Homo sapiens: one gene and its partner. The protein of the gene in region 1 purifies or fractionates together with the protein of each later gene. This does not show direct contact. Each region holds a gene or a part of one and is shown on either strand. Other genes may lie near its edges.

Evidence for each region.
Region 2: the proteins of TBC1D16 (region 1) and TTLL6 purify together in Homo sapiens (affinity purification with mass spectrometry; one large-scale study listed by BioGRID and IntAct). This does not show direct contact.

Annotation. Positions count from the first base shown.
Region 1 is NC_000017.11:79,952,073-79,955,887, forward strand, and holds part of TBC1D16 (TBC1 domain family member 16), read right to left. Parts: intron 747-3,815; coding exon 585-746; intron 1-584. UniProt on the Homo sapiens protein: May act as a GTPase-activating protein for Rab family protein(s).
Region 2 is NC_000017.11:48,764,915-48,768,729, forward strand, and holds part of TTLL6 (tubulin polyglutamylase TTLL6), read right to left. Parts: intron 934-3,815; exon of another isoform or gene 640-933; intron 1-639. UniProt on the Homo sapiens protein: Polyglutamylase which modifies both tubulin and non-tubulin proteins, generating alpha-linked polyglutamate side chains on the gamma-carboxyl group of specific glutamate residues of target proteins.

The DNA of each region.
Region 1 (3,815 bases):
CTGCCCTTAGATGAAAGGCTGGAATGTGGCTCTGGGTCTGGGAACCCCCCCAGCTTCTGGACACGCCGGCTTCTTCTAAGCCCGGGCCTCTCATTGGTGATGTCTGCGGCTGGGCAGCCCTGACTATAAGGAGGAGGATCTGGTGTGGGGAATGACTGCAGGAAACTAGGCATCGCCCACCCATCACGAAAGGAAGGGAGCCTCCATCCGGAAAGCTGCGGCCCGTCCCGCACAGGTGGCCGAGCTCCAGAGCATCCCCCGGCGATCAGAGCCGCCGGCAGCTGCTACCCTCTGCCCTGGTTTGGTTTCTTCTCCCAAGCCAGAGTTGCAAGCAACCGCTGGCTACCATCACGCTGAAGGTAGGGGAGTGAGTTCGGTAGCTCACCCAGCCTGAGAACTGTCAGGGAGCTGCAGTGGGGAATCACTGCCCACAAGATCAGCGAGGGAGGAAAGCAGACGCTTGGGAAGACTCCATCCAGGGCCCTGTGTCCCCAAGCCGTGCACTGCACCGGCTGCAAAGCCCAGGCTGCCAGGGAAAACACACACAGGCCAACTCCCAGGAGGCGCCCAGAGATGCTTCCTACCTGAAGAAAAGGCGGAGGGAGCGCATGTGGCCCAGGTCCACGCGGAACACGCCGCAAATCTGCTCCAGGGCGCACACCCGCTGCGGCTCGTCCCAGCGTGGGGTCTGCAGGAGGCCGTTGCTGTCCGGGAACCGCAGGCCGGCGTCGGAGCTGGACGGGGGGCTGGTGGAACAGGTTATGTGATGATCGCCACACTTCTCCCTGCCCACACTACCCAGAGGGGGACGGGGGTCATGGGGGAGTCATTTAAACCTACGCACCAAGCTTAAACACACATACAGGCACGGCTGAATATGCCCTGTAAACACCTGTGAATAAATGAATGTATGAACCCCACTGCACAGTTCTACTTCCACTTGGATGGGAAAGCATTTTCATGATCAAATTCCATTCCACTTCAATAGAGGCAGTAAGTCATCATCGTCCTGACAGCCAAGGTCACACTGACTGGGGTTCCTCGCTGTGTGACCTTGGCCAAGCCACCAAGCCTCTCTCAGCCTTCGTTTTCCCATGGATAAAGAAGGCAGGAGAATAACAAGGCTGGGTTTCCCTACAGCGTGGGGCTGGGCTTTACTAAAACTGGTTGTTTTGGGATGATTTTAGATAGCATGGGGCTTCCGCGTGGTTTAAACCAGCTCACTGTATTCCTGAAAAGTACTGGTTCAGTTTATGCTTTTGGTTAGGAAACATTTGGGTTCTCAGTACTATTAATAACATCATCAGCATTTATTAAAACACTGACTATGGGCCTGGCCCTGAGCTAATGCTTCTCAGGTGCTTTTATTGCAATTAATCTTCACAAAAATCCTCTGAAATGAATAGTGGTATTACCCCATTGTAAAGAAGAGGCAACTGGGGCCCAGAGAGGTTAAGTAATTTGCCCAAGGTCACACAGCTGGCAAGTGGTAGAGCTGAGATTAGAACCCAAGCTTTGTGGCCCATGTTCTCACCAGCATACTGTGCAGCTGTCTGCAGTTCAGCAGTACAACCCCATTTATTCTGTTATTTTTTATGAGTTTGTTACATTCCAAATTGCAAAATATCTTATTATATGGATTCAGCCACCTCACAGGTTAAATCTTGTCTCTTGAGATTTTTTCTTTTTTTCTTTTTTCTTTTTTTTTTCTTTTTTTGAGACGGAGTCTCGCTCTGTCACCCAGGCTGGAGTGCAGTGTGCGATCTCGGCTCACTGCCACTTCTGCCTTCCGGGTTCAAGCGATTCTCCTGCCTCAGCCTCCTGAGTAGCTGAGATTACAGACGTCCACCACCATGACCAGCTAATTCTATATATTTAGTAGAGACGAGGTTTCACCATGTTGACCAGGCTAGTCTTGACCTCCTGACCTCAGGTGATCCACCCGCCTCAGCCTCCAAAAGTGTTGGGATTACAGGCGTGAGCCATCGCGCCTGACACTCTCTTGAGATTTAATGTCTAGCAAATGTCTGCTAAAATAAAACCGGAGTACAGGCAAGACTCAGCTCTGGACCCCAACTGCAGCACCCCACAGAGACTCAGCCGCATTCACCGCACCTGCCTTCCCGTTTGAGCTCAGAACATAAACTATTAGAGGCAATCAATCCAGAGGCACTTCCTCCTCCAAGAAGCACCAGGTCTAAGTAAATAAAGCTCCTTTGGAGGGTTCCAGCACAATCCCTCCCCACTGGGAACTTCACACAGAGAAACCTGACTGGCCTTTCTAGAGCCCTCTACTGCGTCAGGCATAGCCCTGGGCCTGGTGAGTGGCAGGTGGCCTTTCTTCCCCACCTGCCTAAGGAAGTCAGCCGAACAGGTCCTCCCACTGCTGGGGCCCCTGGGCTCTCAAGGAAACTGAGTCAGGTAAAACTAGATCAGAGATGGGCATGTGGGGCCATCACCTGAACTGCCGTGGCTGCGCCGCGGACGGGCCCAGAAGACCGAGGGCTCCTGACATCTTCCCAAGTGGACCCTGCGGGAGCTGCGCTTCAGAATCGTTGCTCACAACACAGGGCAGGTCTCGAGTCTGAGGCCCCACCGCACCCATGGGTGCCCCCTTCTGTCATCTGCTCATTGAACCGCGGGGCTGCTGTGACTGTGAGAGCTGCTGCCCCGTGTGCTGCCTGCTGGCCCGGCCCACCCAGTGGGGCCATCAGAGGGTGGTATCCTTTCCCGCCTCCTCCCCCAGCCTTCTTACCACACCCAACAGCAGAATCCCCCAAACCTGCTTGTTCCTCCCAGCACACTGTGGCCCACTCACCCTACAGGGCAGGCCAAGGTTTCCAGAAACCAGACAGAACACAGAGACTCGCTTTGGCAGTCACGGATGGAGGGCCCCCTCCCTGCTGCCGTGGCCACAGAAGACTGGTCCCCTGGAGGGCCGGAGCCGATTTCAAACCAGGCAAGAGTCCAGGACACAGGGGCCACCACACACCTCCCCCAGCAACGTGCCTCCAGGCAGGAGTTGGCTTAAACCCTCTCGCAACCCCTTAGGGGCAAATTATTTGCATTAATTAATGGATTGATTCATTAATTCAAGATACTGTGCTTGGGACCTACAGCTGGGGTTCCATAAGCTCAAACTAGAGCGAAGGTGATGGAGACCTCAGTTCGCTTTCATTGGGGTACGTCTGGCAGGTACCCCAGGCCCTGTGTGGTCATGGAGGACGAGGTCTGGTGCCCCTCGAGGCCGGCTGCTGTGGGGTGGGGGTTGCATCGTGTCTCTTCATCTTCAGCTCCCAGCCCTGGCTTGGCGCAGAACACACAGACATTTAATACTCATGCCTGAAGTGAAAATGTAAAGTGTCTGGGAATTTTGAAGTCACAGAAAAAAATGTTTAAAGAAAATAAACTACAGGGAAAACGAAATATGTACAGTGTTTTATTTTTGCTTATCTTTCTACACACGTAAAGCAATTTAGTTTTAAGAATATTCATATATGCTGCAAATAATTTAGCTTGTTCATAAAATTATGTGATGCATTGGAACTAAAAGGATGGGTTTTGCAGGCGATAACTCCCAAGATGCTATTACATTAGAAAGATCTCACACATAAAACTAGAAGACGCTAAACTTTAAGAAATGTAGCAGTTCTTCATTTCTATCATTTTCTGAAGATCACCCAAATGTAAAAGCAGTAATGAAAAAAAGTCAGCACTATCACTGGAAAACAAACACAAACACTGGGTTCTCCCTCCACCACAGTAAACTATGCCATGTCAGATACAGAGATAGAGATTTAAAAGGGCCTCAAATT
Region 2 (3,815 bases), about 31 Mb from region 1:
CTGAAGAGCCACTTATTGTCACCTCAGCTCTAACTAAAGACTAATATGAAAAGTATCATTTAACAGACAGATAGTATGGCTTCAAGAGTTTGGGGCTTGAGAATCAGAAGCATCTGACTCAAATCCTTGCTGTGACAATTAAAACTGGGGGACCTGCTGAATGTTAAGCCTTATGCTCTTTGAGTATCAGCTTTTTTTTCTTTTCTAAAGCTCAAGGCCAAGTGCAATGACTCACGTCTGTAATCCCAGAGCTTTGGGAAGCTGAAGCAAGAGGATTGTTTGAGGGCAGGAGTTCAAGATGAGCCTGGGCAACATGGGAGACCCTGTGCTACAAAAATACTTTTTAAATTAGCTGGACATCATGATGTGCACCTGTAGTCCTAGCTACATGGGAGGCTGAGGCAGGAGGATCGTTTGAGCCCTGGAGTTTGAGATTATAGTGAGCCATGATCCTACCACTGCACTCCAGCCTGGACAACAGAACAAGACTGTCTCCAAAGAAAATAAAAATAAAGTGTACAACTGTGATTGAAATTCAATTAGATAAAATATTTATCTAGAAGAGTGCTGGCGCCTTTATAGTCGGCTAGCAAAAAAGGGTAACTATCACCATCTATCATCCTGATTTTTTCTTTTTTTAGAGATGGGGTCTTGCTATGTTGCCTAGGCTGGAGAGCAGTGGATATTCACCAGCGTGATCCCACTATTGATGAGCATGGGAGTTTTGACCTGCTCCATTTCTGTCTTGGTTTACCCCTCCTTAGGCAACCTGGTGGTCCCCAGCTCCTGGGAGGCCACCATACTGATGCCAAACTTAGTGCAGATACTTGATCAGGGTAGCGCATTACAGCCCAGAACTCCTGGACTCAAGCAATCCTTCTGCCTCAGCCTCCCCAGTAGCTGGGACCACAGGCACTCGCCACCATGCCCAGCACCATGACTAATACTAACACATGGCCATGCCCTCAGCCATTGCTTATTATGGCAGAAAAGATCTAAGATGCCACATGATAAACTGCTCTTTCAGGGAAAGAAGTCTTCCCTAAGGAACTACTAAACTTATTTTTACTCATCTAGGAGAAAATATTGAAACCCTGTCTGCCTAAAAAATACCAGAGCTTCTTGGGGAATCTAGCCCACGTTGCTAAAAAGTGACACGAAGAATCAGCATCTGATGTCAGAGGTATTCACCAAGATTCAACTGATGGGGAAGTTCTCCCTGTTTCCCAGCTCACTACAGCTCCAAGCGGGTGAGGGCCAGTGTACACAGGGATGTACCTGGAGCTTGGGGGTGGGGAGAGAAACCAACAGAACCAGTCCCAATCTTTGAGGAGCCCCCAATCTTGAGGGAAGGAATAAAGTTCCTGTCTTCAGGGAGACCCCCATCTGATGGCAGAGACATAGTCCATGCCACTAGAGACTCTCTAGTATGATTGGACAGACAAAAAGGACCAAAACAGGATGCTGTGCCTGGCCTTTTCTGCTAAGAGGTTCAGAGCTAAATTCAACGGTCAATGCAGGAAGCACTTTATCACACCCTCTTCATATAATGATCTCTTCCCTTTCTTCGTGTGGCTTCTGATCATTATTATTTCATTTAACAGTCCTACTGAATACAAGTTTTCATTGTAATGTGCTACATCATCCTTTTTTAAATAGTAGAAACAGACTGGGTGTGGTGGCTCATATCTGTAATCCTAGCATTTTGGGAGGCCGAGGTGGGTGAATTGCTTGAGGCCAGGATTTCGAGAACAACTTGTCCAACATGGCAAAACCCTATATCTACTAGAAATACAAAAATTGTCCGGGCATGGAGGCACATGCCTTTAGCCCCAGCTACTCAAGAGGCTGAGGCACAAGAATTGAAGATAGTGGTAGTGGGTTGGAGCTCCTTAGGGATCAGAGTTTTGCTCCAATAACAGGCCCACAGGTCAGGGCTGGCTGTAACAGGCTCCTCTGCCCAGGCCTGGGTCTACATGTAAGACAAGTACTTATTACCCGTATGTTTTTGTTGTTGTTGTTTTGTTTTGTTTTGTTTTGTTTTGTGTTTTTGAGATGGAGTCTCGCTCTGTCTCCCAGGCAGGAGCGCAGTGGCGTGATCTCGGCTCACCACAACTGTAGCTGGGACTACAGGCACGTGCCATCATGCCCGGCTACTTTTTGTATTTTTAGTAGAGATGGGGTTTCACCATATTGGCTAGGCTGTTCTCAAACTCCTGACCTAGTGATCTGCCCACCTCGGCCTCCCAAAGTGCTGGGATTACAGGCATGAGCCACCGTGCCTGACCTATTACCCATATTTAAAAGACTTGTTCAAAAGACAAATTCCCAGGGCCCCTTCCCAGCCCTCTTATGCCAGAATTCCCAGGGGGTTTGGCCTGAGAAACTACAGGCTTAAACAAGGGCCCTCATATGATTCCCATCATCAGGGAAATGGGGAAACATCAGGCCCAGCTCTTCTCTGAGCATGGTGAGAGGACTATCAGAATCAACTAGAGGAGCTTCATAAAATGCAGATTCCTGGGCTCTCCACCCAGGACCACTGAATCAGAATTTCTGGGAGAAGGCCCTGGAATATGCATTTTTACAGGAACCCAAGGTGATCTCTATGGGCTGGATGTTTCCTTGCAGGCCCTCCTGCAGTGTGAGCTACTGGTCACAAGGGGCCAGGTCAGAGTATCTGCTCACAGTAAGCTTTGCGTGGCAGGGTGGAGGGAGACGATTCACATCTCTAGCCTTCTTCTTTAGACAGTCAAGCAGCAAAGATCCCTTAATTCCACAGCTCTATGTTGTGGAGTTCTCCGAAGTTTTTACATATGACCTTCCCTCAGAAGCACTGAAGTTCAGACGGAGGGCATCTTACCATCTCCTGGGGCCTTTTGCACGGTGGAACCAAAGCTTCTCAAAGGCCTTTGGTTCCACATCTCAGTCTCTGCTGTCCTGTTGCTCTGTCCCCTCAGCACACTCCATTACAGGGCCAGCCTTTGGGGCAAGTGATCTAGGCCTAGACCAGGCGGCATAGCTTGAAGGATGTGAAAATCAACCCATTATGGTTGACATGGTTCTACTTCTGGGATCTCCATATATGACTATCTCAATTTTAGCCATAAGTGGAAGACAAGGCAAAGTGCCTAGTGGGGGCAGATCAGTTCTACCAGAAATATATTAATACATAGCAAGGGGGTCACTTTTTTTTTTGGAGACAGAGTGCTGCTCTGTCACCCAGGCTGGAGTGCAGTGGTGCAATCCCGACTCACTGCAACCTTCAGCTCTGGGCTCAATCAATCCTCCTACCTTGGCCTCCCAAGTAGCTAGGACCATAGGCATGCTCCACCACACCCAGCTAATTTTTTAATTATTATTATTATTTTTTTGAGACGGAGTCTCACTCTGTCACCCAGGCTGGAGTGCAGTGGCACAATCTCAGCTCACTGCAACCTCTCCCTCCCGGGTTCAAGCAATTCTCCTGCCTCAGCCTCCCGAGTGGCTGGGACCACAGGCGGGTGCCACCATGCCCAGCTAATTTTTTGTATTTTTAGTAGAGACGGGGTTCCACTGTGTTAGCCAGAATGGTCTCGATTTCCTGACCTCGTGATCCACCCACCTCGGCCTCCCAAAGTGCTGGGATTACAGGCATGAGCCACTGCACCCGGCCTAATTTTTAAATTGTTTGTAGAGACAGGGTCTTGCTATGTTGCCCAGGCTAGTCTTGAACCCCTTGCATCAAGTAATCTTCTCGCCTCAGCCTCTCAAGTAGCTGGGACCACAGGCATGTGCCACCACACCCAGCTAATTTTTAAATTTTTTGTAGAGAT